Linked DNA regions of Homo sapiens: all the other regions are linked to region 1. The links come from fine-mapping of genetic effects on gene expression. A gene starts in region 1. Each other region holds a variant in brackets. All regions are shown on one strand. Distances are from middle to middle.

Region 1 (4,091 bases):
AGGTCTTGCTATATTGCCCAGGCTGGTCTCAAACTCTTGGGCTCAAGCAATCTGCCCACCTTGGCCTCCCAAAGTGCTGGAATTACAGGCATGAACCACCGTGCTTGGCCCTCATATACTTTTTTTTTTTTTTGAGACAGAGTCGCACTCTGTCACCCAGGCTGGAGGGCAGTGGCATGGTCTTGGCTCACTGCAACCTCCACCTCCGAGTTCAAGCGATTCTCCCGCCTCAGCCCCCTGAGTAGCTGGAACTACGAGTGCGTGCCATCACACCCAGCTAATTTTATTTTTAGTAGAGATGGGGTTTCACTACATTGGCCAGGCTGGTCTCTGACTCCTGACGTCGTAATCTGCCCTCCTCGGCCTTCCAAAGTGCTGGGATTACAGGCGTGAGCCACCGCGCCTGGCCTTGGCCCTTATATACTTTTATAGTTCCATTTTTTTCACTTTGAAATCTTTGGCCCACTTGGCATTTATCTTGGTGTATGGTGAGTGAACCGTGATTGTAACACTGCACTCCAGCCTGGACAACAGAGGGAAACCTTGTCTCAAAATATAGATAGATATGGCCAGGCGCGGTGGATCATGCCTGTAATCCCAGCACTTTGGGAGGCCGAGGCACGCGGATCACGAGGTTAGGAGATGGAGACCATCCTGGCTAACACGGTGAAACCCCGTCTCTACTAAAAATACAAAAAATCAGTCCGGTGTGGTGGCACGCACCTGTAGTCCCAGCTACTTGGGAGGCTGACGCAGGAGAGTCGCTTAAACACGGGAGGCGGAGGTTGCAGTGAGCTGAGATAGCGCCACTGCACTCCAGCCCGGGCGACAGTGCGAGACTCCGTCTCAGAAAAAAGAACAGATAGATAGATAGATAGATAGATAGATAGACAGACAGACAGACAGGCCAGGCGCAGTGGCTCACGCCTATAATCTCAGCACTTTGGGAGGCCGAGGTGGGTGGCTGCCATATTGCACTTCACAGGGTAATAGAATGGAGATGACAATGACTCGGTGGAGACTGGGGTAAAGTGAAATGAGGGAAACACTTGCTGAGAGGTTAAAAAAAAAAATAAGGGGGCACCAAAAGACTCAGCAATCCAGATAAATGGCTTGATTATCTTATAATCGAGATAAGATATATTGCATTGAACTATTATTTATTTTGATTACTGAAGGGTTCTGGAGGATCACCCCCTGAAATTCGAACCTAGAGGAATGACCTCACCCTAATCCTGGCCGTGGCTAATAATAACGCCCATCTCTTAGGGCTGTCGAGTGAACTAAAAGAGATAATGCACGTAGAGCCCTCGGACCCGAGGCTGGCATTGGGAAAGGCACAGTTTATATTTTTTGACCTGGTTGTTCACCAGGCAATCCCTGCCATCCGGCTTTCCATCCTGCAGGGGGAGCATGACTGACTGAGTGTCACTATCGGATCTATGATACCTTCTTGCTTTTCTGAAATCAAATAAAAGAGCCATAAACTCTCATCTCAACTGTTGTGTTAGGAAGGAGGACGGGAATGGTAAATGCTGACGCTACAGGCGGCAGTCTGTGCCTCAGAGAGAAAATTTATCCCAACCTTGCTGGGGGCCTTGACGCCCATCTTCCTCCAGAGCACCCCGACAGTCACCCCGCCCTCTGGTGTCCTCCCACCCCGAGCCCGATCTTCCCCCTTCACGCCTGCCCCGGGCCAATAGCCTCCTAACTGCGTCCTCTCTGATTGCGTGTGTCGTGCTCATTACGCCCTATCCGTCGTTTCTTCGCTCCACAAACGTTTACTGAGCGCCTTCAACTTGCCAGGCACTAATTAGACTAGCGCAGAGAAACGGGGATAAGTACTGATGAGGGTCCCAGCCCTCAGCGATCGGATTTCAGAGGGGGAGATAAAGGACTGCCCAGAAGGGTGGTGAGTGGAGTAGTTGATATAAACAACGAGGTGCGATGAAATACACAGGAGGGCTGCTAATCACATATGGGGTGGGTGCCGAGGGCCCTTAATTAAGGGAGGCTTCCTGGACGGGTGACACCCAAGCGGAGTCCTGACGACCCGCGTCAGAAGTAGTCAGGCGAGGAGGAGGGTAAAGGAATCCACGTCCCAAGCAGAGAAGCAGCTTTCCCTACACAGCACAGGACACGGTCCGCGCACAGAAGCCGCAGGAGACGCAGGCACAGGGGCTGGGGAGAATCCTTGCTGGGCCCTCGCCGTCCATGCGCCGCCTCCCTCTGCCCGGTGTCTGGTGTCAGCCTCCTGCCTGGCAGAGGAACTCCAGCCCCTGCTCCCCGAAGCTCCTCCAGGCCTTCTGCTTCCCTGACTCGGAATGGGCCCGCTGTCCAGTGGGTACAAGGCTGGTCTCCCCGCCCACTGGTGACGACGTAAAGATCCAGCTCAGCCTGGTTTCCCCTGGTGATGATATCTTGCGACTCGTCTTTCTCCAGGAAAACAGGGACCGCTCTCCGCCTACAGGTCTCTTCCACAGACCTATCTTGTTTTCACCCCCTGTCTCTTTTGGTTCAGTCTTTTCGCTCATACAAACAAGGAAGTCGCCCCTAGCCCAGCCGCGGCTCCTTAGCTGGAGGCGGGCCCGGGGGTGGAGTCAACCGCGGTGGCCACGCCTCCTGGGAAAGGGCAGGGCATGCAAATTCGAAATGAAAGCCCGGAAACCCCGGAACTAGAACTGGTGTAAGATTTCTCTTGGTTTTTGTGTTGTTGTTGTTGTTTTGTTGTTGTTTTGAGACAGAGTCTCGCTCTGTCGCCCAAGCTGGAGTGCAGTGGCGCGATCTCGGTTCACTGCAACCTCCGCCTCCCGGGTTCAAGTGATTCTACTGCCCAGCCTCCCTAGTAGCTGGGATTACAGGCGCGCGACACCACGCCTGACTAATTTTTGTTTTTTTGTTTTTGTTTTTTTTTTAGATGGAGTCTCACTCTGTCGCCCAGGCTGGAGTGTAGTAGCGCAATCTTGGCTCACTGCAACCTCGGACTCCCAGGTTCAAGAGATTCTCCTGCATCAGCCTCCCAAGTAGCTGGGACTACAGGCACGTGCCACCACGCCCGGCTAATTTTTGTATTTTTAATAGAGACGGGGTTTCTCCGTGTTATCCAGAATGGTCTCGATCTCCTGACCTCGTGATCCACCTGCCTCGGCCTCCTAAAGTGCTGGGATTACAGGCGTGAGTCACCGCGCCCGGCACGCCCGGCTAATTTTTTTGTATTTTTAGTAGAGATGGGGTTTCACCGTGTTCCCCAGGCTGGTCTCGAGCTCCTGAGTCGAGACGGGATTTCTCCGTGTTTGCCAGAATGGTCTTGATCTCCTGACCTTGTGATCCACCCGCCTCGGCCTCCCAAAGTGTTAGGATTACTGGCGTGAGCCACTGCGCCCGGCAGATTTTTCTTTTAAAACGTGGAGAATAAGAAATCAGCCCGAGTGTGTAATGGCGTCAATATTGGTGTGGACAAGACAAAGTGAATGAGGCAAGGAGCGAGGCTGGGGCTCTCACCGCGTCTTGAATGTAGATGAGAGTGGGACGGTGATGGCAGGGAGGAAGGCGACGACATCTCTTCTCGTCCTTTTGGCTAAGATCAAGTGTAGTATCTGTTCTTATCAGTTTAATATCTGATACGTCCTCTATCAGAGAACAATTATATTAGATAGATTTTTGGAGCAGGGAGATGAAATAGGAGCTTGCTCTGTCCACTCCACGCGTCGACCTGGTATTGCAGTACCTCCAGGAATGGGGCTCCCTCTCCTGGGATACAACCTGTTTGCAAGGTTAGAAAGAAAAGACTGCGCCGGGTAGTTTAGGATAGTTGGTAGGTTTTCTTACTCCTTTAAGTATCATAAGGTTCATGATTTATGGAGAGTATCCTAGGACCCAAAACAAGAATATTCATTTCCAAGTAGGGAACATGTTCGACTTTACTTGGAGGGCTTTAAATCTCAGCTTGGCTGTGGAGGGGTGATGACCTTTCAAAGGGATGGATTCCAGTGGTGTGTTGCCCAGGCTGGACTTCAACTTACTCTGTTTGTTTGTTTGTTTTTTGTTTTTGAGATGGAGTTTAGCTCTTGGTACCCAGGCTGGAGTGCAAC
Region 2 (4,091 bases), 100 kb after region 1:
GGCTGGGGCTCTCACCGCGACTTGAATGTGGATGAGAGTGGGACGGTGACGGCGGGCGCGAAGGCGAGCGCATCGCTTCTCGGCCTTTTGGCTAAGATCAAGTGTAGTATCTGTTCTTATCAGTTTAATATCTGATACGTCCTCTATCCGAGGACAATATATTAAATGGATTTTTGGAGCAGGGAGATGGAATAGGAGCTTGCTCCGTCCACTCCACGCATCGACCTGGTATTGCAGTACTTCCAGGAACGGTGCACCCCCTCCGGGGATACAACGTGTTTCCTAAAAGTAGAGGGAGGTAAGAGACGGTAGCACCTGCGGGGCGGCTTGCACGCCGAGTGCCTGTGACGCGCCGGCTTGACTTAACTGCTTCCCTGAAGTACCTTGAGGTTCCTGATGTGCGGGCGGTAGACGGTAGGCTTATGCGGCACGCTTTCGTTTCCACCGTGGCTACTGCGCTTTGGGAAGGCCACGACCTCCTCCTTTGGGGAGGTCCTTAGGATCTCAGCTTGGCAGTCGAGTGGGTGGCGACCTTTTAAAGGAATGGGACCCACCCGGAGTTCTTCTTTCTCCTGTCTCTCTCTCTCTCTCTCTCTTTCTCTCTCTCTCTCTCTCTGTCTCTCCGTCTCTCTGTGTCTGTCTCTGTCTCTCTGTCTCTCTCTCTGTCTCTCTCTCTCTCTCTCCTCTCTCTGTCTCTCTCTCTCTTTCCCTCTCTCTCTCTCTTCCCCCCCCCCGCCTCTCCCTCGCTCTTTTGGTTTCCCCCACCCCCTCCCAAGTTCTGGGGTACATGTGCAGGACGTGCAGGTTTGGAACATAGGTACACGTGTGCCACGGTGCTTTGCTGCACCTATCCACCAGTCGTCTAGGTTTGAAGCCCCGCATGCGTTGGCTATTTGTCCTAATGCTCTCTCTCCCCTTGCCCCCCACGCCCCGTCAGGGCCCGGCGTGTGATGTTCCCCTCCCTGTGTCCCATGTGTTCTCGCTGTTCAACTCCCACTTAGGAGCGAGAACATGCGGTGTTTGGTTTTCGCTTCCTGTGTCAGTTTGCTGAGAATGAGGCCTTCCAGCTTCATCCACGTTCCCGCAGAGGTCATGAACTCATCCTTTTTTATGGCTGCGTAGTAATTCCATGCTGTATACGTGCCACACTTTCTTTATCCAGCCTATCATTCATGGGCATTCGAGTTGGTTCCAAGTCTTTGCTATTGTAAATAGTGCTGCAGTAAACATACGTGTCCACGTGTCTTCCTAGTAGGAACTTCTTCCTCTTCAGCCCGCTGAGTAGCTGGCACTTTAAGGCAGGTGCCAACGCACCGGCAGCAAGCTTCCTTTTTTGCCCGGGAAAAACTGAGGTGCAGGTAGTATAAGCCATTGATCACGGAACGCACAGGAGCAGAGCTCGAGTCCAAGCATCGTGGCTCCACCCGTCATGCTGGATGCATCTTTAGGCTCCGCTCTAGGTATGTGTATCCTTTACGGGATCAGCCACCGGCAGTTGCCTTGCGAGCACGATGACAAACCTCTGCCGGCTCTTTTGGGTCTCATCCCTGTATCTATACGTTGCATCCCAACATAAAGACCGGAATGTTCCTTTCGCTGACCCAGTCTCTCACCCTTTCCAAACTCCAGAAATCTTGTCTGTCCTCGGAAGAACTCCCCCTGCTTCTTTCTCTAAAGGCTGTCTTCAGGCCGGGCACAGTGGGAGGATCGCTTGAGCCCAGAAGGCCGCAGTGAGGTGAGATCGCGCCATTGCACTGCAGCCCCCGGCGGCAGAGCCGGAGCCCCGTCTCGAAACAAACAAACAAAAACCAACCAACCAACCAACCAACCAACAAACAAACACAGACAAAGAAAGAAAGAGCCCAGGCAACCTAGTGAAAACCTGTTCGGGCTGGGGCGTACCTGTACCCCAGCTGTTCCGGAGGCTGAGGCCAGGAGGATGGGTGGACGCTGGGAGGTGGATGCTGCAGTGAGCAGTGATTGCACCACTGCACTCCAGCCTGGGTGACAGAGCCAGACCCCGTCCCAAATAAATAAACATAAAAATAAAGGAACCAGTTTGTAGAAAGCGGGAGAGGGTCCCATTGAACTTCAAGCCTTCGAGCAACAGCTGTGGCTGGACAGGTTGGACCAGCAGGCTGGAGCAGTCGCCATCTTGGCAGGGATCATTGACCCTGATCTATCGTCGGGAGGAGGAAGAGCT[G/T]ATCTTACGCAGGGAGGGCAGGTGGACTATGTGTGGACTCTGGTGACCTGTTTGGGTGCCAGGTGTTACTCCCAGGGCCACCCGTAACTGTGAATGTGCAGGAACCCTGACTTGAGAAGGGCCTGGCCACGGGGGGCTTAGGCCCCTGGGGAATGAGAGTTTGGTTCCCGGTACCCAGGGAAACCACCAGCATCGGCAGAGGTGATAGCTGAGGAGGAGCGGGGATTTGGACGAGAGACACAGGATGAGTACCGGGGGGCAGCCCCGTGATCAACAACTGCTGCAAGAGGGGCCGTTTGTTCGACTCGCTAGTCTTCTGCGGCTCTATGCGGTACTAAAGAGCAGAAGACAGAAGATACAAAAACCACAAAAAGTAGCCGGGGCGTGGTGCTGCCCGTCAATAATCCCAGCTACTCGGGAGGCTGAGACAGGAGAATCGCTTGAACCCGGGAGGGCGGAAGTTTCAGCGAGCCGAGATCACGCCGTTGCAGTCCAACCTGAGCGTCCGAGCGAGACTCTATCTCAGAAAATAAAGACAGAATGAAAGAGCCCGGCGCGGTGGCTTACGCCTGTAATCCCAGCGCTTTGGGAGGCCGAGGCGGGCGGATCGCCTGAGGTCAGGAGCTCGAGACCAGCCTGGCCGACATGGCGAAACCCCCTAAAAATACAAAAATTAGCCGGGCGTGGTGGCCTGCGCCTGTAATCCCAGCTACCCAGGAGGCTGAGGCAGGAGAATCGCTGGAACCCGGGAGGTAGAGGCTGCAGTGAGCCGAGATCGCGCCACTGCACTCCAGCCTGGGCGACAGAGCGAGAGTTTGTCTGGAAAAAAAAAAAAAAAAGCCAGGGTGAGCGGTGGCTCAAGCCTGTAATCGCAAGCAACACTTTGGGAGGCGGCAGCTGGGCAGATCACCGGAGGTCGGGAGTTGGAGACCAGCCTGAGCAACGTGGAGAAACCCCATCTGTACTAAAAATACAAAGTTAGCCGGGCGTGGTGGCACATGCCTGTAGTCCCAGCTGCTCGGGAGGCTGAGGCAGGGGAATCGCTTGAACCCGGGAGGCGGAGGTTGCAGAGAGCCTAGATCGCGCCATTGGACTCCAGGCTGGGTAACAAGAGCGGAACCTCCGTCTGAAAAAAAAAAAAAAAAAAAAAAAAAATTGGGAGAATTTTGCTCCCACTGCCGTCAAAATCCCATGTGTATTTCACACTTAACAGCGCAGCTCCATTAGAACTGACCACATTTCCAGGGCTCCCTAGATACCTGTGGCTAGCGGCTGCCATACTACACCGTGCTGGGCTGTAGAATGGGGATGACAAGACAGGGCGGCGGAGATTGTGTTGGCGTGAAGCGAGGGAAACACTCGGCCGCAGGACAAAACTAAAACAGCAAGGGGGCACCGAAAGACTCAGTAGTCCACGTGAATATCCTGATTATGTTGTAGCTGAGATAATGTAGGGTCCACCCCTACCGGGTCTGTGGGTTTTCTCTTCGCGTGTGTGCGGAGACGAGAGATCGAAGAGATAAAGACAGAAGACAAAGAGATAGGAAGAAAGACAGCTGGGCCCGGGGGACCACTGCCACCAAAGCGCGGAGACAGACAGGTAGTGGCCCCGAGTGCCTGGAGGCGCTGCTATTTATTGTAGTCAAGGCAAGGGGGCAGGGTAAGGAGTGCCAGTCATCTCCAATGATCGATAGGTCACGCGAGTCACGTGTCCACTGGACAGGGGGCCTTTCCCTTTGTGGTAGCCGAGGTGGAGAGGGAGGACAGCAAACGTCAGCGTTTCTTCTATGCACTTATCAGAAAGATCGAAGACTGTGGTACTCCTACTAGTTCTGCTACTGCTGTCTTCTAAGAACTTAAAAGGAGGAGCCAGGTGTACAGGCTGAAC
Region 3 (4,000 bases), 290 kb after region 1:
TGGGCGGCAAAGCAAGATCTAGTTGCAAAAAAAAAAAGAACTGGCTGGGTGCGGCGGCTAACACCTGCAATCCCAGCACCTTGGGAGGCTGAGGCCAGTGGATCATGAGGTCAGGAGATTGAGACCACCCTGGCCAACATGGTGAAACCCGGTCTCTACTAAAAATACAAAAATTAGCTGGGTGTGGTGGCACGTGCCTGTAATCCCAGCTACTCCAGAGGCTGAGGATGGAGAATCACTTGAACCTGAGAGTCGGAGGTTGCAGTGAGCCGAGATTGCGCCACTGCACTCCAGCCTGGCGACAGAGCGAGACTCCGTCTCAAAAAAAAAAAAAAAAAAGCTTCACGCCTGTAATCCCAGCACTTTGGGAGGCCGAGTCAAGTGGATCACGAGGTGTGGAGATCAAGACTATCCTGGCTCACATGGTGAAAGCCCGTCTCTACTAAAAACACAGAAAAATTAGCTGAGCGTGATGGCGGACTCCTGTAGTCCCAGCTACTCGGGAGGCTGAGGCAGGAGAATAGCATGAACCCGGGAGGTGGAGCTTGCAGTGAGCCGAGATCCCGCCACTGCGATCCAGCCTGGGCGACAGAGTGAGACTCTGTCTCAAAAAAAAAACAAAAAAACTTAGCTGGGCGTGGTGGTATGCACCTGTGGTCCTAGCTACTTGGGAGGCTGAGGCTGGAGCATTGCTTTAACATAGAGAGTCAAGGCTGCAGTTGAGCTATGACTGTGCCACTGGACTCCAGCGCAGGTGACTGAGACCCTATCTTTTAAAAAAAGGGAAAATTACTTGAACTTAAAAGGTGTAATTGTTAAAGAAAATGTAGTGATTTGCTCTGTTGTTACTTATATGTGCATGAATGATGGAGATCTTAAAAAGTAATCATTCTGGGGCTGGGCGTAGTAGCTTGCACCTGTAATCCCAGCACTTCGGGAGGCTGAGGCAGGCAGATAATTTGAGGTCAGGAGTTTGAGACCAGCCTGGCCAACATGGTGAAACCCATCTCTACTAAAAATACAAAAATTAGCTGGGTGTGGTGGCACGTACCTGTAATCCCAGCTACTCGGGAGGCGGAGGCACAAGAATTGCTTGAACCTAGGACGCGGAGGTTGCAGCGAGCCAAGATCGCGCCACTGCACTCCAGCCTGGGCCGTAGAGTGAGACTCTGTCTCAAAAAAGAAAAAAAAGTAATTGTTCTAGCTGGGCGCAGTGGCTCTTGCCTGTAATCCCAGCACTTTGGGAGGCCAAGGCGGGTGGATCTCGAGTCCTAGAGTTCAAGACCAGCCTAGGCAATGTGGTGAAACCCCATCGCTACAAAAAATACAAAAATTAGCCAGGCATGGTGGCGTGCGCATGTAGTCCCAGCTCCTTGGGAGGCTGAGGTGGGAGGATCACTTGAACCCAGGAGACAGAGGTTGCAGTGAACCGAGATCACGCCACCACGCTCCAGCCTGGGCAACAGAACAAGACTCTGTCTAAAAAAATACAAATAAAATAAAAGTAGTTCTCACAGTACCAGCATTCATTTTTCAAAAGATATAGAGCTAAAAAGGAAGGAAAAAAAAAGTAATGTTGGGCTTTTAAATACTCGTTCCTATACTAAATGTTCTTAGGAGTGCTGGGGTTTTATTGTCATCATTTATCCTTTTTAAAAATGTTATTGGCCAGGCACGGTGGCTCATGGCTGTAATCCCAGCACTTTGGGAGGCCGAGGCAGGCAGATCACCTGAGGTCAGGAGTGTGAGACCAGCCTGGCCAACATGGCGAAACCTGTCTCTACTAAAAATACAAAAATTAACTAGGCGTGGTGGTGTACGCCTGTAGTCCCAGCTACTCGGGAGGCTGAGGCAGGAGAATCAACTGAACCAGGGAGGTGGAGGTTGCAGTGTGCCGAGATCACGCCACTGCACTCTAGCCTGGCAACAGAGCAAGATTCTGTCTCAAAAAAAAAAAACATATATACACATATATCCCAAAGTGCTGGGATTACATATATATATATATATATATATATTATATATATATATATATATATGTTATATATATGTTATATATATATAACATATATATATGTTATATATATGTTATATATATATAATATATATATGTTATATATATGTTATATATATATATACACACACACACA[CAT/T]ATATATGTATATATATATACACACACACACACAAATTAGCCAGGCATAGTTGCACACGCTTGTAGACCCAGCTACTCAGGAGGCTGAGGCAGGAGAATCTCTTGAACTTAGGAGGCGGAGGTTGCAGTGAGCTGAGATTGCGCCACTGCACTCCAGCCTGGGTGACAGAGCAGGACTCTGTACACCCCCCAAAACAAAAAAAAAAGTTATCAGATGTGATTGGAATGTATATCAAGTATCAGCTTCAAAATATGCTATATTAATACTTCAAAAATTACACAAATAATACATAATCAGGTTTGAAAAATTTAAGACAACAGAAAAAAAAATTCAAATCACACATATCCCACACATTTTATTATTACTACTACTATTATTTTGTAGAGACTGGGTCTCACTCTGTTGCTTATGCTGGTCTTGAACTCCTGGCCTCAAGCAGTCCTGCTCCAGCCTCCCAAAGTGCTGGGATTATAGGCATGAGCTACCGCTCCCAGCCCCAGACATTTTAGTGTGTAAATTCCTGGGCATTTTTTCCAGGCATCATACATGTTAGCTGACTGATGATGGTCAATTTATTTTGTCCATGGTGTCAAGTTTCTCTTCAGGAGGAAAAGCACAGAACTGGCCAACAATTGCTTGACTGTTCTTTACCATACTGTTTAGCAGGAAACCAGTCTCAGTGTCCAACTCTCTAACCTTGGAACTGTGAGAACTCTGAGGACAAAGCAGCGGATACAACCTCAAAAGACGTCTGTCTACATTGAATTGGGTAAGGGTCTCAGGTTTTTTAAGTATTTAATAATAATTGCTGGATTCCTTATCTTATAGTTTTGCCAAAAATCTTGGTCATAATTTGTATTTGTGGTAGGCAGCTTTGGGAAGTGAATTTTATGAGCCCTATGGTGAGTTATAAAAAATGTAAAAGACGCAGTTCCCACCTTGAAGAATCTTACTTTAAAAAGGGAGCAAAAGAGGCCAGGCATGGTGGCTCACACCTGTAATCCCAGCACTTTGGGAGGCCAAAGTGGGTGGATCACCTGAGGTCGGGAGTTCGAGACCAGCCTAGCCAACATGGAGAAACTCTGTCTGTACCAAAAAATAAAAAATTAGCCAGGTGTGGTGGCACATAACTGTAATCCCAGCTACTCGGGAGGCTGAGGCAGGAGAATCACTTGAACCCGGGAGGTGGAGGTTGCGGTGAACCGAGATCGCACCATTGCACTCCAGCCTGGGCAAAAATAGCGAAACTCCATCTAAAAAAAAAAAAGAGAGCAAAAGAAAGAATATCTGGTTTTAAATATGTGTAAATATGTTTTGGAAAGATGGAGAGTAGCAATAAGAAAAAACATGATGGATTGCTACAGTATTTAGTTCCAAGATAAATTGTACTAGATGAGGAAGCCTTTTAAGAAGAGCTGAATTGCCAGGCGCAGTGGCTCACGCCTGTAATCCCAGCACTTTGGGAGGCCGAGGTGGGCGGATCACCTGAGGTCGGGAGTTCAAGACCAGCCTGACCAACATGGAGAAACCCCATCTCTACTAAAAAAAAAAAAAAAAAAATTAGCCGGGGTGGTGGCTTATGCCTGTAATCCCAGCTACTCAGGAGGCTGAGGCAGGAGAATCGCTTGAACCCAGGAAGCAGAGGTTGCAGTGAGCCAAGATCGCACCATTGCACTCCAGCCTAGGCAACAAGAGTGAAACTCCATCTCAAAAAAAAAAAAAAAGAGCTGAATCTTGGCTGGGCAGGATGGCTCGTGCCTGTAATCCTAACGCTTTGGAAGACCGAGGCAGAAGGATTGGTTGAGTCCACGAGTTTAAGACCAGCCTGGCCAACATAGGGGAACCCT
Region 4 (4,000 bases), 340 kb after region 1:
ACTTCATCTCAAAAAAAAAAAAAAAATCCCAGCTGGGCACAGCGGCTCACTTCTGTAATCCCAGCACTTTAGGAGGCCAAGGCAGGAGGATCACTTGAGCCCAGGAGTTCAAGACTAGCCTGGGCAACATAGTAAGACCCTGTCTCTACAAAAAAATTTAAAAATTAATTGGGTGTCGTAGCACACTCTTGTATTCCCAGCTACTCAGGAGGCTGAGGTGAGAAGAATGCTTGAGTCTGGGAGGTCGAGGCTGCAGTGAGCCATGATGGTGCTACTGCACTCCAGCCTGGCCAACATTGTGAGACCTTGTCTCAAAACAAAACAAAACATCCTTCTACTGAGCACTTTCTGTCCCTTTATAGAAACTTAAGAGGGAACCAGTAGAGGTAATTTCCTAAGGAAAACTGCTTTGGGACATGATCACAAATGAAGCCTGGAGTTTTGAACTGCTGAGGTCAGCCTGTTTTTACCTTCTGAGCCTATCAAGTAATTGTTCCAGATGCCAAGAAAAGCTGCTGGCCTTATTTCTGCTTCTGCCTTTACCACAGGGGAGCGCCATGTGAGCCAGTCCTCTGTTTTTCCTCCACTGTATGCTAGGCAGTATTAGCACCAGATTCTTCCCCTCTTTAAAAAGAAATTCTAGTGCTTTGGATTTTTTCCTCCATGCAGAATAGCAATGATGGAAAGTATGTGGTCAAAGTAATGACATTCTGAAAATACTAAATGTCACCATAGTATTTTTCTCTGGAAGAGAAATGTATATGTAGAGGTGAAACTTCAAATTTCTTTTTTTTTTTTTTTAAGACGAAGCTTTGCTCTTCTTGCCCAGGCTGAAGTACAATGGCGTGATCTTGGCTCACCGCAATCTCTGCCTCCAGGGTTCAAGTGATTCTCCTGCCTCAGCCTCCTAAGTAGCTAGGATTACAGGCATGTGCCACCACGCCCAGCTGATTTTGTATTTTTAGTAGAGATGGGGTTTCTCCATGTTGGTCACGCTGGTCTTGAACTCCCGACCCCAAGTGATCCACCCACCTCGGCCTCCCAAAGTGCTAGGATTACAGGCCACCGCGCCCGGCCTGAAACTTCAAATTTCTTTTTTTTTTTGAGACAGAGTCTCGCTATGTCACCCAGGCTGGAGTGCAGTGGCGCCGTCTCGGCTCACTACCAGCTCCACTCCACCTCCTGGGTTCACACCATTCTCCTGCCTCAGCCTCCCAAGTAGCTGGGACTACAGGTGCCCGCCACCATGCCCAGCTAATTTTTTGTATTTTTAGTAGAGACGGGTTTTCACTGTGTTAGACGGGATGGTCTCCATCTCTTGACCTCGTGATCCGCCTGCCTCAGCCTCCCAAAGTGCTGGGATTACAGGCGTGAGCCACTACGCCAAGCCCGAAACTTCAAATTTCTTATCTCATAACTAGGCATCCTCATCACTGAGTGTTAGCCTGGATATAAACATTCCTAATCTTTTGTACTTTTCATGTCAGCATTTGGCTCCACTTGGCTGCCTGGGGAGAACTTCTAGCATTATGAGCATGCAGGTCCTATCAACAGGTTGGGGGTGCGGTTTATTCATACAGGTAGTGAGAGTGGCACAGATGGATGCTGTCCCTTAAAACAAACAGACTTGTCTTTGGGAGCCTGAGGCGGGTGGATCATGAGGTCAGGAGTTCAAGACCAGCCTGGCCAACATAGTGAAACCCCGTTTCTACTAAAAATACAAAAAATTAGCCGGGTGTGGTGGTGTGCACCTGTAATCCCAGCTACTAGGGAGGCTGAGGCAGGAGAATCACTTGAACCCAGGAGGTGGAGGTTGCAGTGAGCCGAGATGGCACCATTGCACTCCAGCCCAGGCGACAGTGCAAGACTGCGTCTCAAAAAAAAAAAAAAAACACACAGACTTGTCCTACTGCCATTTCTTTTCACTCTGGCGGTAAAGTAAGAGAGTGTGTGTGTGTGTGTGTGTGTGTGTGTGTGTGTGTGTGTGTGTTTCTGTCC[G/A]TCTGTCTGTCAAGGGGGAGGGTGACCACTTTCTAAAAGGCCATCCGTGTATTTTTAGCTTCCTGATTTTTTTCTCTATCGCAGTCTCTTTGAAGCCAGGTGAATTTTAGGCCTTGGCAATTTTCTTTTTATTGCAATGGGAAGGTCAAGACACTGAGAGTCACCCAAAACATATCCATCCAAAATGATACAATTTTAGGGTTTATTTTTAAGTGATACCCAAGTTATTTGCTAAGAACCTATGCCAGTGTGTTTATGAGAATTTGCACTGTCCCACACTGTTGCCACCAGCCACATGGGACTGTTTAAATTTAAATTTTACAAATTAGCCAGTCATGGTGGTGTGCACTTGTAGTCCCAGCTACTTAGGAGGCTGAGGCAAGAGGATTGCTTGAGCCCAGAAGTTCAATACTGCAGCAAGCTATGATCGTGCCACTGTACTCCAGCCTGAGTGACAGAATGAGACCTCATCTCTTCAAAAAAAAAGAAAAAAATTAAAATATGAAGTTTAGTTCTTCATTCACCCTAACCACATCTCCAGTGCTCAATAACTATATGTGACTCATGGCTACCTTATTAGCATAGATATAGAACATTGTGACTATCACAGAAAGTTGTTTTGAACAGTGTTGCCAAGCCCTGTAAGTGGAAGAGGCAGTGCAGTGTGATCTGTGTCTTCAGGAAACCAGGTAGTCAGACTAGTTCAATGAGGAGAGGCAGAACCTGGCTTCACTTCTAGATTAAAAACTGCTTAGGTGGCCTAAAGATACAATGGCCATTCTCAGAGTAGTGAGAAGGAAGGAACAGATGTTTAGGGGGCTAGAAGAAAGTCAGAGAGGGCCGGGCGCAGTGGCTTATGCCTGTAATCCCAGCACTTTGGAAGGCCAAGACAGGCAGATCACGAGGTCAGGAGTTCGAGACCAGCCTGACCAACATGGTGAAACCCTGTCTCTACTAAAAATACAAAAATTAGCCGGGCGTGGTGGTGCGCGCCTGTAATCCCAGCTACTCAGGAGGCTAAGGCAGGAGAATCGCTTGAACCCTGGAGGCAGAGGTTGCAGTGAGCCCAGATCGCACCACTACGCTCCAGCCTAGGTGACAGAGAGAGACTCCGTCTCAAAAAAAAAAAAAAAAGTCAGAGGAGACAAGGAGCATGTACACCTAAAATCAACATAGACCCCTCTGTTGATGGGGTCATAGTGAGTACTTGAGGTACCAAGTCTGGATAAACATCAAACTTCAGCCAATAACTTTGAGTTTCTAGCCATCCAAGCCTCTTATTAAACATACAGAAGGACCTTTTTTCCCTTGCATCTAACAAGTTAAAGCACCTGCAGAGATCATTAGGGAGGAGCCTTGGCCTGATTGGTGACAAAAGTGAGATGCTCAGTCCTTGAATGACAAAGAATGCCTGTAGAGTGCAGGTCAACTACATATGCACTTCAAGAAGATCTTCTGAAATCCAGTAGTGTTCTGGACATTGGACTGCTTGTCCCTGGGAAGTAGCAGCAGAAATCATCAGGTGGTGAACAGAAGAAAAAGAAAAGCTCTTCCTTTTTGAAAGTCTGTTTTTTGAATAAAAGCCAATATTCTTTTATAACTAGATTTTCCTTCTCTCCATTCCCCTGTCCCTCTCTCTTCCTCTCTTCTTCCAGATCTTCAGGGGGCTAGAAATCTGTTGCTATGGGCCCTTCACCAACATGCCCACAGGTAAGAGCCTGGGAGAACCCCAGAGTTCCAGCACCAGCCTTTGTCTTACATAGTGGAGTATTATAAGCAAGATCCCACGATGGGGGTTCCTCAGATTGCTGAAATGTTCTAGAGGCTATTCTATTTCTCTACCACTCTCCAAACAAAACAGCACCTAAATGTTATCCTATGGCAAAAAAAAACTATACCTTGTCCCCCTTCTCAAGAGCATGAAGGTGGTTAATAGTTAGGATTCAGTATGTTATGTGTTCAGATGGCGTTGAGCTGCTGTTAGTGCCAACATGTTAGTGAG
Region 5 (4,091 bases), 190 kb after region 1:
ATAAAACAAGGAGGGAAGGTCCAGGGATGTTTGTGTTTAAAAACTGGCTCTCAGCCAGGCATAGTGGCTCACACCTGTAATTCCAGCATTTTGGGAGACCCAGGCAGTTGGATCGCTTAAGGCCAGGAGTTCAAGACCAGCCTGGACAACGTGGCAAAACCCCGCTTCTACAATAAATACAAAAATTAGCTAGGTGTGGTGGCCCATGCCTATAGTCCCAGCTACTCAGGGGGCTGAGGTGGGAAGATTGCTTGAGCCTCAGAGGCAGAGGTGGCAGTGAGCCAAGATTGTGCCACTGCACTCCAGCCTGGGCAACAGACTGAGACCCTGTCTCAAAAAAAAAAAAAAAAAAACACAACCAGCTCTCAATAATCAAAATATAAGCAGACAGACTATACTCAGATAATTTAAGGCCAACTAAAACAAATATTTCTTTAAATCCAGAATCCACAAATACTGGGAAATACAACTTTTATTCATCTAAATTCAGACTTTGCTATGGAAAATAGTCTCTTTCCATACTGAGGAAAAAACAGGTTTTGAGATCAGGTCGATTCCTCTCTTTATTTCACCTCTGAAGAACACCCCAGCTGAGGGGGCTGTGAGTGGTACCTGGGCAGTGACGGTGGAAGCTCCACTACCTCTGGGATTAGGGGCACTGTTTCCAGAGTCTGTGAGGTCGTGAGGATGTCACTTATGCTGTGCTCCTGTGGCTGGTTCTCCCCTCCAGGGAGTCTTTCCCCAGCCTCAGCTGGTTCCTGCCCAGCCTCAACCCCAGGCTTGCCTTCAGCACCTCGCTCCAGGCCTGGCTGTGAGAGCGCAGAGCTGTACATAGAATCCCCCAGGGGGCGGCTGGTATCAAAGCACTCAGGCAGGATGATGATGTAATCCTCTGAGGAAGCAGAGGACTGACTTTGAACTTCATCTTTGAGCTCATCCTCCTCCTCCTCATCCTCCTCATCCTCCTCCTCCTCCATGACAGCTTCTTCCTCAGCGATATGGATAATCTCCTCCTTCTCATTTCCAAGTGGTCCTTCAGGCAAGGCAAATGTCACTAAAGGATGAAAGCAACCAATTTTAAGGTGGAAGCTAAAAGCAGGCCTAAGTACTATCCTTACTTGGTAAAGCCTTGTGGATCATAAGCTAGAATTATGAAAGCCAGAGGAGAGGGAAGAACTAAAGGGAAGGGCTGGTTCTGGAACTATGACCATATTCTAAGTTTGAAGACTATGCAAAACAAAATAGAATCAAAGCTCACAGAAACAAGGTAGGCAGAAACACTCAGGTTTCCAAGAAGCTCTATGAATCATAAAAGGAGGCAGCTCCATCCCTTTTTTCCTTTTTATGTGATGGTTAATATACTGAGTAGAGTTTAAACCAAAACTGATACACTAACAGTGCTATAAAAAGAGAAAAAGTTAGGAGATGAGTATTGCAGGATTATATGTCTATCTCCTCCTCTTCTTTACAAAGATGATGCAGTCATGGGAGAAAACTGGCCAATCATGTTTGAGAGGGTAAAAAAGGATAGAAAAAAGCTACCCAGGGCCAGGCACGGTGGCTCACGCTTGTAATCCCAGCACTTTGGGAGGCCAACGTGGGCAGATCATGAGGTCAGGATATCAAGGCCATCCTGGCTAACACGGTGAA[A/G]CCCCATCTCTACTAAAAATACAAAAAAATTACCCGGGCATGGTGGCGGGCGCCTGTAGTGCCAGCTACTCGGGAGGCTGAGGCAGGAGAATGGTGTGAACCTGGGAAGGCGGAGGTTGCAGTCAGCCGAGACCGCGCTGCTGCACTCCAGCCTGGGTGACAGAGACTGTGTCCCAAAAAAAAAAAAAGCTACCCAGGCCAGGTGTGGTGGCTTACGCCTAAAATCCCAGCACGTTGGGAGGCCAAGGCAGGCAGACTGCTTGAGCTCAGAAGTTTGGGACCAGCCTGGGCAACGTGGCGAAATCCCATCTCTACAAAAAAAAAAAAATTTAGCTCATTGTGGTAGCATGTGGCTGTGGTCCCAGTTGCTTGGGAAACAGAGGTAGGGGGACCCCAGGATGTTGTGGCTGCAATGAGCCATAAACTTGCTACTCGCACTTTAGCCTGGGCGAGTGAGACCTTATCTCAAAAAAAAAAAAAAAATTACCCATAAATCCTATCAGAATAACAGCTGTGAACATTTTGGTACTGTCTTTCCAGACCTTTTTGTTATGTATTTGTACACACATGTGGAAAAAAATATAAAGATATACATGACTGATTGATTTGAGATGGAGTCTCACTCTGTTGCCCAGGCTGAAGTGCAGTAGCATGATCTCAGCTCACTGCAAGCTGCACCTCCCAGGTTCACGCCATTCTCCTGCCTCAGCCTCCCGAGTAGCTGGGATTACAGGTGCGCCCGCCACCACACCCAGCTTATTTTTTGTATTTTTAGTAGAGATGGGGTTTCACCGTGTTAGCCAGGATAGTCTTCATCTCCTGACCTCATGATCCGCCCACCTCGGCCTCCCAACGTGCTGGGATTACAGGTATGAGCCACCGCACCTGGCCACATGTACACTTTATTATTTTTTTTTTTTAGACGGAGTCTCGCTCTGTCACCCAGGCTGGAGTGCAGTGGTGCGATCTCAGCTCACTGCAACCTTGGCTTCCCGGGTTCAAGCAGTTCTCCTGCCTCAGCGTCTTGAGTAGCTGGATCACAGGCACACGCTACCACGCCCAGCTAATTTTTGTATTTTTAGTAGAAATGGGGTTTCTCCATGTTGGTCAGGCTGGTCTCAAACTCCTGAGCTTGTGATCTGTCCGCCTCGGCCTCACAAAGTGCTGGGATTACAGGCGTGAGCCACTGCGCCTGGCCTTACATGTATACTTTAAACAAAAGTAAGATAAATAATATTTAAAGATATAGGTCAAATTTGATTATAATAAAGAGATTCTCCAATATTATTTTGACATAGTATATTTGAATTTTTGGATACTTCTTAAAATATATGCTATTGGTTCTATCTATCTGATACCTAGAAGTTTCTGTTATAAAGGTATTTATTCCTTTTTTTTTTTTTGAGACGGAGTTTCACTCTTGTTGCCAGGCTGGAGTGCAATGGCGCCATCTCGGCTAACCACAGCCTTCGCCTCCCGGGTTAAAGTGATTCTCCTGCCTCAGCCTCCCAAGTACCTGGGATTACAGGCATGTAATCCTTGGCATGTAGCCACCACACCTGGCTAATTTTTAGTATTTTTAGTAGAGATGGGGTTTCTCCATGTCGGTCAGGCTGGTCTCGAACTCCCAACCTCAGGTGATCCACCCGCCTCAGCCTCATAAAGTGCTAGGATTACAAGGGTGAGCCACTGTGCCCGGCCTATAAAGGTATTTATTACAGCAGAATTTAACCTTGAGAAACTTTGTTGGTACTCCTGCTTCTATCCACTGTTTCTGGGACTGCTGCCCTTGGAGAAAGCAGACAACTCAGCTACCCATAGGGGTCTCTGCTAAGGAGCTCTGTCAAATTACAGGAAGATTCCTTACTGCAGAATCCAGGCAGCACAACTGGCTGCTATTCCACTGTGGAATGCAGCTGTAATTCTGCCCCTGAGAAGATGGAGAAATGAGTATGATGGCTTCTTTACTCCTGATGCTCTAATTAGAACAGTCAGGTAGCATACGTAGAGTCTAAAGACACAAACAAGATCAGAATTTCTTTTTTTTTTTTTGAGATGGAGTCTCGCTTTGTCGCCCAGGCTAGAGTGCAGTGGCGCAATCTTGGCTCACTGCAAGCTCCGCCTCCCGGGTTCATGCCATTCTCCTGCCTCAGCCTCCCGAGTAGCTGGGACTACAGGCACCCGCCACGTCGCCAGGCTAATTTTTTGTATTTTTAGTAGAGATGGGATTTCACCATGTTAGCCAGGATGGACTTGATCTCCTGACCTTGTGATCCGCCTGCCTTGGCCTCCCAAAGTGCTGGGATTACAGGCTTGAGCCACCACGCCCCGCCAAGATCAGAACTTCTAACTAAGATCACTCTCCCTTCAGTCTCAGTGAAGAAGAGCACATCTAACTAGTCAAGTCTGGCAGTCACAATTCAGGTGCCACCCTGCTAGGT
Region 6 (4,091 bases), 21 kb before region 1:
ACAGTGCGAGGGTGTGTGTGCGTGTTTGTGTGTGTGTTCGCATGCATGTGCATGTGCATTTGTGAGACACACCACAGGACATCTACATGCTAGGGACAGAAAGATGGGGAGGGCATGACGCTGGATTTTCTCTGTTTGATCTCGAGTGTAAAAGAGCAGCCAAATGCCCTCAAATAATGTTCTTTTTCTCCCTCTCTTGCTTTTCTCCCCAGGACTCTGGCACTTCTACAAATAGAGCTGTGCCAGAAGAAAAGGAAGTTTCAGCACTCAGTCCATCCACACCCCCCACCCCCTGAAACAATAATCTCTTCCTCTCTCCCAGCCCCTGTTTGAATTGGGGAGGGGGAGGGAAAGGAGGCGTCTTTTCTGTTCTGAAGTTTCTAAGGAAGCCAGTACAGACGCACCCTTCCCCTTCCAGGGAATGTATCCTGTGATGTTTAAGTAGGAGTCAAGCCTTGAGAATGAATTTCTCTTGAACTGTCCTTTCTCCACCACAGGAGATGGGATGGGTACACCCAATAAAGGAGAAAGAGCAAGAGAAGGGGTTAGGGTCAGATGTCCCCAAGGATATCAAAGTTTTCTGCCTAAGGGAACAGTGGGGCTCAGATGACCCATAGGCAAGGAAAGAGGTCAAGGAATGACTCAGTAGCCACAGCCTCCTGGAGCCTCTTGAAGAAACTCAAGGTTTCAACCTGATAAACATTCTCAAGACAGACAAGGCAGGATCAGAAGTAGGAATCCTGGGCAACATAGTGAGACCCTGTCTCTACAAAAAGTAATTAGTTGGGCATGGTGGTGTGCACCTGTGGTCCCAGCTGCTAGAGAGTCTGAGGTGGGAGGATCGCTTGAGCCCAAGAGTTCCAGGCTGCAGTGAGCCGTGACCATGCCACTGCACTCCAGCCTGGGCAACAGAGTGAGACGCTGTCAAAAAAAAAAAAAAAAAAAGAAAGAAAGAAAGAAGGAAAGAAAGAGGAAGAAAAAGAAACAGAAAGAGAAAGAAGGTGGGACAAGGGCAGATAAGGGTTGAGGCCAGGCTGAGAGTGAGAGTAGAAAGAGGACTGGGTTGCCAAGTGTGGATAACAATCAGGGCTGTGCTTGCTCGGGTCAGCTCACTCTTCTCTTCTCAGGCTACTCCCTGAGTGGATGCCTTGGTGCTCCACCCAGATTCCCGGTGCTGACTGTGAGTTTTGGCTGCCAATGGCTCTCCATCTCTGGACTTGCCCTTGGCCTAGAGGGCAGCCAATTAGCTGACTGACAGGGACATAAAAAACTAGCCTCCCTGACTCAGGTGGGATCCTTTCTGTCATACAGTTGTCCACCCAGAGCTTCCCACAGGATCAAGCCAAAACCAGACTCAGCTGTGAAGCACATCCTTGCTTCCCCACTCTGTGCCCCACCCTCTTTCCTTTCCTCCCTTCTCCTGAGAGTTTGCCTCACAATAAACCATGTGCCGCCCAAATCCCCATCTCAGTCTGCACATCAAGGGAACCAGATCTAAGACACTTCTTTGGGTACAAATTGCACCTTAGCTCCAGTGCCTAGGATGCTGTGTCAGCCCCTAGTCAGCCTTCAGTGCACAATAAAGATTTTTAAAAATTTTTTCGGCCGGGCGTGGTAGCTCACATGTGTAATCCCAGCACTTTGGGAGGCCGAGGTGGGCGGATAATATGAGGTCAGTAGCTCAAGACCAGCCTGGCCAACATGGTGAAACCCCGTCTCTACTAAAAATACAAAAATTAGCCAGGCCTGGTGGCGTGAGCCTGTCATCCCAGCTGCTCAGGAGGCTGAGGCAGGACAATCACTTGAACTCAGGAGGCAGAGGTTGTAGTGAGCCTGGATCGCGCCACTACACTCCAGCCTAGGCGACAGAGCAAGACTCCGTCTTGAAAAAAAAAAAAAAA[AT/T]TCTAGTCTCTCACTATGAAACTACAGTAAATAATGCTAAATACTATTCATATTATATGTGGTTAATTGAAAGAAGGAGTGATTGGTTGAATTAATGCTCTGGATGGGAGATAAGTAGGTGGGGGAATTTATTGTAGGACCACCCCCCCATATACACACACACGTTAACCAGATGCCCATGGCTCATCCCAGTACATCCTGTCTACATATAGGCCACCTGCTTACATCTATGCAAAGTCAGGGACAGATAATCCAGTTTGTGGATTATCCAGACCCCCAGCTGGCATGTTCCTTCTCAATATTGCCTCCCTGAACCCTCCCTCTGCTCCAGCACTTTCCCGGGGGTAGAGGGTGGGCAGAGACAGGCAGCAGGGGAGGGCAGGATGATGAAACCTCAGTCTGTCAACACTGTTGCTGCTGCCTCAGCAGTCTGATGAAAGATTAGAAACTATTGGGTAAAATCATGTTAGGAATTTTCTATGGATTCCAGGTATCTGGGCTCATCACCAAGTAGACAATTAAGAGTTGTTTGTGTGGTGAAAACACCTTGAACAAGGCCAGGAAAGTCACCTGCTAAGTAACCAAGTTTGGATCACTGAGAATCATAGTATGATAAGATACCATCTTAAAATGATTTAAGATATGCAAAGTCCTCTCCTATTCTGAAAGCTTTCCAAGAAAAGAAGTATGTGGATCTTTCAGGTTTTTCAGTCCTTCCTATCAAGAAGGCCTTCCTATAATTTACCTTCCTTCCATACTGTTACAGTTCTGGTCTGTTTCTCTTTTTTTTTTTTTCTCTGAGACAGGGTCTCACTCTGTCACTGAAGCTGGAGTGCAGTTGCAGTGGTTTGAACACAACGACTGCAGCCTCTGCCTCCTAGGCTCAAGCAATCCTCCCTCCTTAGCCTTCTGAGTAGCTGGGACCACAGGAGCCACCATGCACAGCTAATTTTTCTTTTTGTAAAGACAGGATCTTCTTTAGTTGCCCAAGCTGGTCCTGAACTCTGAGTTCAAGCAATCCTCCCGTCTCAGCCTCCCAAAGTGCTGGGATTACAGACATGAACCACTGCGCCTGGCCCTGTTTCTCTTCTGATTTCAGACAAAAAGGAGAACAAGTGTTTCATTCTTTTACTCATAATGCTCCTTCCCCCCAAATATGTGGATGCACTATCTGTAGAAACAGAATGTGAAGCCGGGCACAGTGGCTCACGCCTGTAGTCCCAGCACTTTGGGAGGCCAAGGTGGGTGGACTCCGAGGCCAGGAGTTCAAGACCAGCCTGGCCAACATAATGAAACCCCATCTCTACTAAAAATTAGCTGGGCATGGTGGCAGGCACCTGTGATCCCAGCTGCTTGGGAGGCTGAGGCAAGAGAATCGCCTGAGCCTCGGAGGCAGAGGTTGCTGTGAGCCGACATCACGCCACTGCACTCCAGCCTGGGCGACAGAGCAAGACTCCATCTCAAAAGAAAAGAAAAGAAAAGAAAAGAAAAGAAAAGAAAAGAAAAGAAAAGAAAAGAAACAGAATGTGAAGAATGTGAGCCACATATGTAATTTTAATATTTCTGATAGCCACATTTTAATGTTAAAAAGAAACAACTGAATCTAATTTTAATCATTTTATTTAACTCATTATGTAAAAAGTATCACTTCAACATATGCATAATCAATATAAAAAGTATTAATAAGAAATTTTACATTCTTTTTTCACATGAAGGCTCTGAATCTGTTGTGTATTTTACACGTACAGCATATCTCAGTTCAGACCAGCCACACTCCCCATGTTCAATCACCATGTGTGGCTCATGGCTGCCATATTGGACACCACAGGTCTAGAGCTTGGGAGTCTCTTCTTTGACACCTGCCCTACAACCTACTCTTCTGGAGTAGGAGGTAGAGAATGTGAATCTAGATACAGCCTATCCTCAGGTGACAGTGGGAGGAGTTGAAGGACAGGAGTGGTGGACAGAGTCTGAGAGTGTCTCAGGCCAGGTAATTACAGGGAAAGGAGGAACAAAACTGTATCTATTAAACCTCAGACTCAGGCCTTTCCTCCTGAGGAGTAGGTGGAGCCAAAAAGGTGCTCCGAAGCCTACAATGCTCCAGGTCCCTCATTAATCAGAATACTTAATTCTGGCTCCAAGCTGACTTCTTTTCCTTACCTCCTCCAGGAAGCCTTCCCAGATAAATT
Region 7 (4,088 bases), 370 kb after region 1:
CCTGGCTAATTTTTTGTATTTTTTAGTAGAGACGGGGTTTCACCGTGTTAGCCAGGTGAATCTCCTGACCTCGTAATCTGCCCGCCTCGGCCTCCCAAAGTGCTGGGATTACAGGCGTGAGACACCGCGCCCGGCCTTTTTTTTTTTCGAGATGGAGTCTCCCTCTGTAGCCCAGGCTGGAGTGCAGCGGCATGATCTTGGCTAACTGCAACCTCCGCCTCCTGGGTTCAAGCAATTCTCCAGCCTCCGCCTCCCTAGTAGCTGGGACTATAGGCACCTGCCACCATGCCTGGCTAATTTTTGTAGTTTTAGTAGAGCTGGGGTTTCACCATACTGGTCAGGCTGGTCTCGAATTCCTGACCTCAGGTGATCCACCCACCCGCCTCGGCCTCCCAAAGTGTTGGGATTACAGGCGTGAGCCACGCCGCCCGGCCCTTTTTTTTTTTTTTTTTAACAGGGTCTCACTCTGTTGCCCAGACTGGAGTGTAGTGGCGCGATCTCGGCTCACCTCCGCCTCCCAGGCTCAAGCGATTCCTCTGCCTCAGCCTCCCAAGTAGCTGAGATTACAGGCGCGCGCCACTACCGCCCGGCTAACTTTTTTATTTTTAGTAAAGACGGGGGTTTCACCATGTTGGCCAGGCTGGTCTTGAACTCCTGACCTCAAATGATCCACCAGCCTCGGCCTCCCAAAGTGCTGGGATTACAGGCGTGAGCCACCGCGCCAGGCCTATCCCTTAAAATAGTTTTTAATTTGAATAAGGTTTACTATGAATAAATAAATCACAGTCGGCTTGATCCCAAGAGCACAGACGTTCCTGGTGCCCCTTTTCGTGCTCTCCCAGCTTGCGCCACTATGGCCCTGGCCCTTTAAGGCTGAGCGCGAGGCCCCGCCTCGCCCGGCGCCCCGCCCCTCCCGCTGGATCCCGCAGCCGCGGCTCTTCCCGACGCGTTCCGCCTTCCCCAGCTGTGCACTCTCCATCCAGCTGTGCGCTCTCGTCGGGAGTCCCAGCCATGTCCGACGAGAGAGAGGTAGCCGAGGCAGCGACCGGGGAAGACGCCTCTTCGCCGCCTCCGAAAACCGAGGCAGCGAGCGACCCCCAGCATCCCGCGGCCTCCGAAGGGGCCGCCGCCGCCGCCGCCTCGCCGCCACTGCTGCGCTGCCTAGTGCTCACCGGCTTTGGAGGCTACGACAAGGTGAAGCTGCAGAGCCGGCCGGCAGCGCCCCCGGCCCCTGGGCCCGGCCAGCTGACGCTGCGTCTGCGGGCCTGCGGGCTCAACTTCGCAGACCTCATGGCTAGGCAGGGGCTGTACGACCGTCTCCCGCCTCTGCCTGTCACTCCGGGCATGGAGGGCGCGGGTGTTGTGATCGCAGTGGGCGAGGGAGTCAGCGACCGCAAGGTGAGCGGGTTGCGTAGGGCAGGGCAGGGCTGCGCAGGCCACTGGGCAGTGGGGCACGAGTGGGCGAGCGCCGGGGGTGTGGCAGGGCGGGAGAAACTGGCGCGGACCTGGGTGCACGAGCGTGGAAAGCGTAGCCAAGGAACTTGTGTTTGGGGGCTCCTGGAGAGCGGCATTTATGTGGGGAGGGGAGACGAAATTATCGCCCCTTCCCCAACCATTTTTAGTTGTGGCCGCCGCCCAGAAGCTGTGCTGGTGGGGGGGAAAACAATAAGGTGCCCATGCGCATGCGCACAACCACACTACCGTCCCCACCCCCCCCCCCCCCCCCCATTAAAACCACACCTGTACCCCTACCCACCAAACACTCTCTGGGTAATTGTGGTCTGTGACTATGAGTGACGGTTAGTGCCCCCTTTCCCCGAGGGAGCTTGAGGGGCTATGTCGTCGGGGTTGGGCGGGGGCACAGCGGCCGTGCCAGAGTCCTGGTCACATGCAGCCCCGTGGTCTGTGGGGGTGTGAGGCGGCCCCTCCCAAAGCAAGGCCAAAGAGACGAGACACGCCCATCACGGAGGAGAGAGAGCCTTTGCTACCCCACCGCCACCAGCCTTACACCGCCGATCTGATTTTGGGGTGGGGGAGGCGGGATTGGGTCATCCGATCTTTGTCTTGGGCTCTGTGTCTCCCGTGACTGCAGTATCTCCTCCTCCTGTGACTCAGCCCTCAGCCTTCGGGCCACGACCCGGGGCTGCCCTTGGGAATGCCTGGGGCGGGGAGTGGAAGGGGGGACCCACCTCTGCCTTCCTCCTGCAGAGGACCCCCACTTCAGAAACCCCAGTGCCAGGGGTTTGGACTGGAACGGAGAGGTG[C/T]GGCGCCTTGAACTGGTTGGCCAAGTCTGCAGGCCTGTTTCTCCTTCTCATTTATCATTAATCTTGGCCACAACCCTGGACACCAGAGAGCTCAAAATGATCAGCTTTTTGAGAGACCTGGGATGAGGCCTCAGCACGCCATTTGTTTAGAGGTTTCTTTTTTTTTTCTTTTTCTTTTTTTTTTTTTTTTTTTTTAGACGGAGTTTCGCTCTTGTTGCCCAGGCTGGAGTGCAATGGCGCGATCTCGGCTCACCGCAACCTCTGCCTCCCGGGTTCAAGCGATTCTCCTGCCTCAGCCTCTCGAGTAGCTGGGATTACAGGCATGCGCCACCATGCCTGGCTAATTTTGTATTTTAGTAGAGATGGGTTTCTCCATGTCGGTCAGTCTGGTCTCGAACTCCCGACCTCAGGTGATCTGCCCACCTCGGCCTCCCTAAGTGCTGGGGTTACAGACATAAGCCACTGCGCTTGGCCAGGAGTTTCCTTTTTAAATCAGACCCCTCAATGAGAGGCCCCACAGATGCAGCCTCTTGCAGACCTGCCAGCCCAATTCTGGAGCCAGGTTTGTTGGATTCATCCTGTATGCAAACAGCTTCTCCTTAAGGCTTTCCTCTGAATTCAGCTCTGGCCCCACCCTCAAACTGACTTCTAAATGATCCCACTCTTGAGCAGGCGTCTAAGAGGAATATTTTCGGGAGGTAGTTGTAGTTCATGTTACTGCTGAAGGCCACCCACCTCACCTCCCCTCCATACACTTTCCGCCTGGTAAATACAGGATATCCTGTCCAGGGCAAGAATCTGATGTAAGAGCCTGGATTCTGCGGGGAGGGCCCTTCCCTCTCTCTCCCTCCTCCTCCTTCCTGGTGTCTGGGTTGGGGAGGGGTCATGGCCCTGATTTGGATGGCCTGAGGGTTAGCATGAGCCAGGGTAAGTGAGACTTGTTCTGGGTCAAATCTGGGACTGGCCATGACCCTAAATGACCAATGCACTCCTCGCAGCTCTCCTGGGTTGTTCTGTATCTGCTAGTCCTGAGTCCCTGGGTGGAGGGCTTCCGTTCTTGTTCTCCAGACCTCATCTCAGGCCAGAACTTGGAAGGAAAGACCCCAGCATGCCCTCAGTTCTCGTATTCAGTGGAGTGTGGGGGCTTGAGGACATGAAAAAGGGCGTAAGTGGCAGTCCCATCCCCCTTCCCCATGGACCCTAACTCTTGTTAATATACAGAATTCCCATCATTCCTGGCAGGGATCAAGACAGACCCAGATTGTCCCAGAACAGCACCCACACCTCCCTCTTCATGCTCTTCAGAGAGCGCAGAGAAGTCTTTTCTCCTGACGCTCCCTCCTTTTCCCTGCCCTTCCCTTGACCCCACTTGCTAAGCTGGAGAGAAAGGTTCTGTTATCTTTGTCCCCTTTCCCTCCTGCACAGAGGCTCTCGTGGGGGTGGGGGGGAAGCCTTTTACTGCTGCGTAGGCCTCTGTAGCCCTTCTTGTCTGTTGCCCCTCCTGCACCATCTCTGAGTGAAGATGTTTTCTGGGCTCCCAGTGCTGGCTCAAACACACTTCTCCCGAGGTGACCACACCCTGCTGTAAGCGCTCAGAGAACTTTGCCTGCACTTTGGTATGGCCCTGACCACACAGTGCCGTCTTCTTTTGGTTGTGTGACTTCCTTGCTGCTATTATATTATTATTATTATTATTGTTAGCTAACATTATTAAGTGCTTATTATGTGCCAGACATTGTGCTAAAATTTTTTTTTTCCATTTGGAAAAACTGCCCTAATTGACAGATAAGAAAACTGGAGCTGGAAAAGTGGAGCTCAAAAAGA

Evidence for each region. PIP is the estimated chance that this variant, and not a neighbour inherited with it, causes the effect.
Region 2: its variant is fine-mapped to the expression of LINC00910 in naive CD8 T cells (Schmiedel 2018, PIP 0.95).
Region 3: its variant is fine-mapped to the expression of LINC00910 in whole blood (INTERVAL, PIP 0.94).
Region 4: its variant is fine-mapped to the expression of LINC00910 in whole blood (TOPMed, PIP 0.96).
Region 5: its variant is fine-mapped to the expression of LINC00910 in whole blood (INTERVAL, PIP above 0.99).
Region 6: its variant is fine-mapped to the expression of LINC00910 in CD4 T cells (BLUEPRINT, PIP 0.94).
Region 7: its variant is fine-mapped to the expression of LINC00910 in lung (GTEx, PIP above 0.99).

The regions. Positions count from the first base shown.
Region 1 is chr17:43,386,884-43,390,974 of GRCh38, reverse strand. It overlaps LINC00910 (long intergenic non-protein coding RNA 910), which reads left to right and starts at 2,077. Exons shown (of 6, transcript NR_027412.1): 1 at 2,077-2,686. It also overlaps the pseudogene RNU2-4P. RefSeq lists enhancers at 1,197-1,950, 2,268-2,497, 1,951-2,704, 2,995-3,510, 3,511-4,026 and a silencer at 2,060-2,354.
Region 2 is chr17:43,286,462-43,290,552 of GRCh38, reverse strand. It overlaps LOC124904145 (U2 spliceosomal RNA), which reads left to right and starts at 72; the gene lies at 72-262. The variant G/T (reference allele first, on the strand shown) is at 2,204.
Region 3 is chr17:43,098,697-43,102,696 of GRCh38, reverse strand. BRCA1 (BRCA1 DNA repair associated) reads left to right here. Exons shown (of 23, transcript NM_007294.4): 7 at 2,817-2,922. Among named protein-coding and RNA genes, the nearest start is that of BRCA1, 25 kb to the left of the region's middle. The variant CAT/T (reference allele first, on the strand shown) is at 2,151.
Region 4 is chr17:43,050,771-43,054,770 of GRCh38, reverse strand. BRCA1 (BRCA1 DNA repair associated) reads left to right here. Exons shown (of 23, transcript NM_007294.4): 20 at 3,654-3,708. Among named protein-coding and RNA genes, the nearest start is that of RND2, 28 kb to the right of the region's middle. The variant G/A (reference allele first, on the strand shown) is at 1,999.
Region 5 is chr17:43,197,130-43,201,220 of GRCh38, reverse strand. NBR1 (NBR1 autophagy cargo receptor) reads right to left here. Exons shown (of 21, transcript NM_005899.5): 17 at 613-1,054. Among named protein-coding and RNA genes, the nearest start is that of TMEM106A, 13 kb to the left of the region's middle. The variant A/G (reference allele first, on the strand shown) is at 1,651.
Region 6 is chr17:43,408,035-43,412,125 of GRCh38, reverse strand. No RefSeq gene overlaps it. Among named protein-coding and RNA genes, the nearest start is that of ARL4D, 11 kb to the right of the region's middle. The variant AT/T (reference allele first, on the strand shown) is at 1,902.
Region 7 is chr17:43,019,246-43,023,333 of GRCh38, reverse strand. VAT1 (vesicle amine transport 1) reads left to right here and starts at 949. Exons shown (of 6, transcript NM_006373.4): 1 at 949-1,398. The coding sequence starts at 1,012. The variant C/T (reference allele first, on the strand shown) is at 2,265.